2 linked regions of the Homo sapiens genome follow. The protein of the gene in region 2 interacts with the protein of the main gene of each other region in a pairwise test. Each region holds a gene or a part of one and is shown on either strand. Other genes may lie near its edges.

Region 1 (3,500 bases), on a different chromosome or scaffold from region 2:
AACTCCAGCCTGGAGACAGAGCAAGACTCCATCTCAAAAAAATAAAATTAGATAAATAAATAAATAAAAAGTGAATATTCTGCTGGATACAGAGGAGACTATGTTATAGATGCTTATGACATGTACACAAGAAGCATGTCTTTGTATGCATAGGCACAGCAGTGAAACAACATGAGAACACACACAGCCACATGTATCATGCAAGCAAGGTTGTCTCTTCTAAACCCTGCACACCGATGACACCAAAGACTGTTGCCCAGGTGTTCTTGGAAATTCTGAACCAGGTGAGAGAGGAGATGGGGGGCAGGGGAGGGAGGAGACACCAAAACACCAAGAGACTCCCAGGCAGAAAAAAAGTCTCTTGTTTTGAATGATGTTTTTAATAGTCAGTTACTAAGACAACTCTTTCTGGGAAGTCAGAGGACATGTCTCTCCCATCTCCCTACAACCATGTCGCTTGGGTTGTTAGTCTCCATGTGCACCCCCAGATCCATGACCTGCTTGAAGAAGCAGGAGGCTGGCCCATTGGACTGTCCCTTGAGCTCCCTTGCCTCCTGGTTTCTGGTTCCATTTGGCCAATAGAAGACACTGGCAGGGGCCGGGCACAGTGGCTCACGCCTGCAATCCCAGCATTTTGGGAGGCCAAGGTGGGTGGATGACTTGGGGTCAGGAGTTTGAGACCAGCCTGGCCAACAAGGTGAAACCCTGTCTCTACTAAAAATATAAAAATTAACTGGGTGTGGTGGCAGGCGCCTGTAGTCCCAGCTACTAGGGAGGCTGAGGCAGACCTGGGAGGTGGAAGTTGCAGTGAGCCAAGATCATGCTACTGCACTCTAGCCTGGACGACAGAGACTCTGTCTTAAAAAAAAAATAATAAAGAAGAAGGCACTGGCAGGAATTCAGAAGGTGGAAGGAGAGAGATCCTGGGTGTATCTTCCCCAATTTCTCTCTCTGTGGTCCTGGTGGTGGCTGAGCCCCTCTGCGACAGCTCCCTGCCCACCTCTACCAGTCACGGAACTCAGGTAACACCACTCCCTCCTGCTCATTCAGGCCGAGAGCTAGTAATGCCTTCTGTCACTGTTAGTTTGTGGGTGCCTCACCATCCCATGTGGGTTCCCCTCACCCTGCTCACATCTTTATTAACATCTCCTCAGGTGAAGCATCTGAGTGGAATTCTGTTTCCTGTCAGAATCTGACTGATCCACCACCTGATGCTCACTTAGGATAAGGGGAGCCTGAGAAGAGGCAGAATAAGCTAAGAAGTCAAGGAAGGCAAGGGAACCGTCAGGAAGCCCCTTAACCTCTTTGTGCCTCAGTTTCTTCATCTGTAAAGTCATGATGATAAACTTACATACCTCACAGGCTTACTGTGAAAATGGAATCAGATCATGCCTGTAAAACACTAAACACATACCAGAATATTAGAAATATTTGCTCCAGAAATATTACTCTCCAATTAAGTCCAAAGACTAAAATGTTAACAATAGCCTTCCCTTGGAGAAGGAAATAGGGGCCTTTTTCTCCGTATTTTTCAATTTTCTACTATGAGCATGTATTACTTTCGGAGTCAGAAAAGAAAAAAGAAGAATTACAAGAAAAAAAAAAAAAAACAGAAAGAGTGCCTATTAGGGCTTATTCTTTCTCTCACTTGCTGGAGATGATGTGACTTCCTTCCCAAGGGGACTTCCCCAGTATGGAACACTCACTTCCCTGAGTGATAATGTCTACATGGACGTGAATGAAAGGATGGAGGGTACAGGCTGAGAGAGCTGCCTCTGAGACCTCAAGCCACTTTCACAGCCAGGCAAGAAGGATCAAAAAGGGAGCTGAGTCTGCAGTCATCCTGTCTGGTGCTTGGATTTGTACATGGCAGTGGGGAGACGGCAATTCGTCAGAGGTTTGCAGTACCCACGGACACCACTTTAGACCAAACAATGTGAAAAGGCCACCACCCATCAGCCTTGGCTTCTTGCCCAAAAGCTTCACGGGCCACTAGGGAGCCTCAGGCTGATGTGCAGTGGTGGGCTGGGGACCACGTGACAGCACAGAACTGCAGAGTAACAGCATTAAAACGGAGACATGCGTCCCACCTGGCCCATCCTGATGACGATGCAGAAGGCAGAGAGAGACCTCCCGTTAGCAGGGTATCCTCCGAGAGCTGGGCAACATGCTGGCTGTCTTTTGGGCTTTATCTTATTTGAGCTGCACAAGGGCCACACGGAGTAGGTGAGCTTATTTCCCAGGCGGCTTAGTGGCCAAGGCCACATGGCTAGTCAGTTTCAAGGAGAGCCAGGACTAGGACTCAAGTCTGCTGGCTCACAGTCCAGTGCTCTCCCCACTCAATGCTGCTACATCCCACGACCTCCAACTTGCTGTAAGCCATATAACCAAAGCTACTGTTGCTCTGGATGTAGAAATAATAACGGCAGTATCAATCCCTCCCACATGCAGGGCACTTTACAACTTAAAGGATCTTTTTATAATCATTTTGCTTGGACCTCACCAATTAGCCACTGTTGAGAGTGGGCAGGAAACAGCAGTTACAGACATGGGCTTATGAGCCAGAGCTGGAATCCTGATGCCACAGGCTTGGTGACCTTGGGCAGGTTACTTAACCTCTATTGAGAAGACTATCCCCTGCACCTCCAAGGTGTATAGTGAGAATTAAATGAGATAGGCAGGGTGTGGTGGCTCACGCCTGTAATCTCAGCACTTTGGAAGGCCAAGGAGGGAGGATTGCTTGAGCCCAGGAGTTTGAGAGCAGTCTGGGCAACAGAGCGAGACACTGTCTTTACCCTGTGCCCCCCCCAAATTAGCCGGGCATGGTGGGGTGCACCTGTAGTCCCAGCTACTCAGGAGGCTGAGGCAGGAGGATCACTAGAGCCTGGGAGTTTGAGGTCACAGTGAGCTGTGACTATGCCACTGCACTCCAGCCTGGGTGACAGAGTGACAGGCTGTCTTTAAAAAAACAAGAATAACGACTGGGCCTGTAATCCCAGCACTTTGGGAGGCTGAGGCAGGCAGATCACCTGAGGTCAGGAGTTCGAGACCAGCCTGGCCAACACAGTGATAACCTGTCTCTACTAAAAATACAAGAACTAGCCAGGCAGGTGGCACGTGCCTGTAATCCCAGCTACTTGGGAGGCCAAGGCAGGAGAATTGCTTGAACCGGGGAGGCGGAGGTTGCAGTGAGCTGAGATCCTGCCACTGCACTCCAGCCTGGGCAACACAGCAAGACTCCATCTCAAAAACAAAACAAAAAAACCCAAAAAACAAACAAACAAAAAAATAAGAAGAATAAAATAAAAAGAAAAAATAGAAAAACAGATAATGCACATGAAGCTTGCTCTAGCACAGTATTTGACATATAGAAGACACTCAGTGGCAGCAATGGCTCTGATCACCACCAGACAGATGGACAAACTGAGGTACAGAGAAGGTAGAAAGCTTGTCCAAGGACAGTCTGGGTGTGGGCAGCTGCACAGCCCAAGCAGCAGCTT
Region 2 (3,500 bases):
TGAGATGTGGTGAGGAGAGCCCTGAAACCAGAGCCCGCAGCCTCTCAGAACCTTTAATTCAAAAGGCACTTCCCTGGGCAGGAAGTGAAGGCTTTTTTTGTGTGCAAAGCCCCATCAGGCATGAAGAGTAGGTTCTGAGCCCAGAGGAACCACGTTGGTGTGCTGGAATGCAATGCACCCATCCCCATCCGCAGCTCTGCCTGCCTAAGAACTTTCTGCAGGTAGAGGAGCTGCATGCTCAGCAGTAGGTTGAATCCAATTGTCTGTAATGACTCAGATGGAGTCATTAAAGACCAACAAATTGGCAATATGAGTATTGAATGTAGCTTGAGCACCCATTATTGCCTGTTGGATCAAAGAAAAAAGTGGCTACATGTGTATTACTCAACAGGCAATAATGGCTTTGAAAGAGCTGGCACATGTGAGGAAATAGCAGTCATTTTCAAAGTAAATAGTAATAATGATAACACACTTTACAGAAGGCTATGGTTACACAGTGCCTTCACATACTTTATCTCATTCTATCTTTACCTTAAGTGGGTGAAAGAGATGCTATTACACCCAGTGCAAATAAGGAGCGTGTTTCTCAGGGAGGTTAGGTGACTTGCCCAAAGATACATACTTAGGAGAACTGGAACTTGAACTTGGCTTTCCTGATTCTAAATCCAGTTTTCTGTTTACAACAGTTAAATTTGAGCCTTGCTACTCCAAGTGTGTTCTGCTGATCTGTAGCATCAGCATCACCTCAGATCTTGTTAGAAATGCAGACTTGCAGTTCCCACCCCAGACCCTTTGAATCAGTCTGTATTTTAGCAAGATGCCTAGGTGACGTGTGTGCATGTTAGAAAGTCTGAGAGCAATCAAACAATCTTTACTCAGTAGGACTACTTGCCTATACCACAAGACCAAAAACAAAATCCAACAACTCAAACCTCATACAATTAAGGTATAAATATCACAAAATGTTCTTGAGCATTTATAATGACAGCTCTATAGCAGAGATGCATTATTTTTTCTTGAGACAATTAGAAAGAATTGACAAAGCCATGGTATTAGTGACAGCAGGAGAGCCTCATGGAGGAATGGGTAAAGGAATCTTTATCTTCCACGCTGAAAAATTAGCAGTTTTAGTGTTTCCATTAAACTCACAGAAATATGCTGATTTTGTACCAGTATCATTTTCTTTTAAGTTTGCCTCTTAGAACAATACTTTCTGTTCCTCTGGGCTAACTTTTAAGAAGAGTGGGACTAAGCAACATCAGAATGGTGATCTCCTGAACACTGGTGCTATGGTCAGGAAAACCACTTGTCCTTGATGTTTTCTTTTAAGTGTGTTTCCTATTTACATTTGAATATGGGTGTGGCCAATGTTTTGAGACTTTTCTTTAAGTAAATAAGGGAATGTGTAGTGTGGGGACTTGGGTTCCAGGGTGCTCACTGGGAACTGCACAGGGATCCACCCTCCCACATGGAAATGCACCACTGATTGGGGACTGAGGTCAAGTTCATACCCTCCCAAACTGTACTTGGACCAGAGAAGGTTGTCAGATATTTGGTTTTCCAAGAATTTCTCCTCATATAAATGGCAGCAGATCTGGAAACAGAATGGATGCTTATTGCTTATCAACAAGTTTGAAACCAAGATTTGTCAAAGATGAAAAATGAATATAGAGCACAAGAAATCACATGGTCATGCTACCAGGCAAAATTATATTTGACCAAAATAAATCAATAGGGAGGCAGAGCACATTTTCCATCTTACAAGCTATAAACCAGTAACAATTTATTAAGCACCTGCTGCAAACTCCACATTATGCTAGGCTCTAGGAGAGATCTGGCAGTGTCAGACATTGTTCCTGCCCCTGAAGAGTTCATTACCTCTCTTAAGAGAAACGATCACATGACAATATAGCAAATTACATAAGAGTCTACAGCTCTGCATTAAAGAATGTGTATAAGAATGAAAGCCCAATAGATTTAAGGGAGAGAAGAAGCCATGAATCTGAGAAAGCCTCATAAAGTAGAAGGCATGTGAACTGGTCCTTAAAGAGAGGAGGGAGGGCACTTTTAGGGAGAACAACAAAAGTAGATGTGTGAAGATGGGGGCCTGCAGACTTCTGTATTCATAAAGGTGAGAATGAATATGTGCCTCTCAAATGTAGAGGTCTGGCATCTAAAACCACACATCCTGTTGGTGTCTAGGCCCTGTTTGGAGTCATCTTTACCAGCATCCACTGGCACTTGTCAAACTTGGGAATAACTAAATAGCTATGCTGGATGATTCTTAACTGTAAGCTTCATGGAGACAGGGTCATAGCCATCTTGTTGAGTAAAGGGATGAATATCCATTCCCTAGAAACGGGGCACTAAATCTCTCGATGTATAACTCTAGATGAATATAAGACCCTTAGGGCAGATGCTCTCAGGGTCCCACCCATATAGTCTCAGCTCACACTCACCTCTCCATGCTAAGGTTGCTTGCCACAAACACCTGTAGCTCTGTACCCAATTCTTTTAAAAAAAAAAAAAAAAAAAAAATATATATATATATATATATATATATATATATATATATATATATAGGGAGAAACACAGCATATGAAAATGCCAGAAATTTAATGCTTCTAAATGTAGTTGAATCAGCCGATGATGGCTGGAGTTGGGGAGAAAATATTCAGCTTCTTTATCCACAACTGAGATTTCTCCAACACATTCTACAGTGTCTCCCAGAGTTCCCTAGTGAGACTGAGCCCCAGTTGCCCACAGTAGACACTTGCTTAATAATACTCTCTTGATTGGCTTCCTGCTACTCACTGTTTTACTTCCCCACTCCCCTATCAGCCTTTTCTGATATCACCTCCCAAGATAACCGACTGCACTTACATAAATCATCTTAACTGTACTTGAAGCCTATGAATTAAACCTAAAGTGGAAGACCTAACAATGGGGATCTTTCAAAATAGCAGAAACAATATTCTCAAGAGGATTTCTTAGAGAGCAAGAAGATAAAAATAGCTTTTTCTAGTTCCTCACTGCCTCCTTTTGTTCAAAATATGAATTCAGAAGTTGCAAGCACAACATATTATTCAGGGCTTCCCGTAAGAAATAACAACTGGTGTTGATTTTCTTTTTTTCCTTTTCTTGTCTTTTAAAGGTTAGCGATTACTCACCTCCCCTGCTGGTCATTAAATCAGTCTGGCAGGATTCCTCGGTAGTTCTGTGGCCTTCCGGGTATGTGGCGGAGACACAGGCAGTGCTGCAGACAGGCCTGCTTGCTGTGATGTGCTATCAAGCAGGTGACTTCAAAGGTCTGCTTTAAGCCTATCTCAAGTATCACTTGGGGCTCACACTGAGCCCCGAAATCAGGTACCAGATGGCACATCCCACAAAGTCAAAGTTGATCAGCTCACCAGCATCTCACATTTCCCTGGCTTTTGTGCCAAGGGACTGGAAACACTCAGGTAGAAAACAAATAACTTCTGTTAGCTTACTTCTCCTTC

What was found. Proteins that work in one complex are often made in the same cells at the same time.
Region 1: the proteins of PTCHD1 (region 2) and EPB41L1 interact in a two-hybrid assay, tested with the Homo sapiens proteins (one study listed by BioGRID and IntAct).

What each region holds. Positions count from the first base shown.
Region 1 is NC_000020.11:36,161,240-36,164,739, reverse strand, and holds part of EPB41L1 (band 4.1-like protein 1), read right to left. Parts: intron 1-3,500. UniProt on the Homo sapiens protein: May function to confer stability and plasticity to neuronal membrane via multiple interactions, including the spectrin-actin-based cytoskeleton, integral membrane channels and membrane-associated guanylate kinases.
Region 2 is NC_000023.11:23,341,349-23,344,848, reverse strand, and holds part of PTCHD1 (patched domain-containing protein 1), read right to left. Parts: intron 1-3,500. UniProt on the Homo sapiens protein: Required for the development and function of the thalamic reticular nucleus (TRN), a part of the thalamus that is critical for thalamocortical transmission, generation of sleep rhythms, sensorimotor processing and attention. Can bind cholesterol in vitro.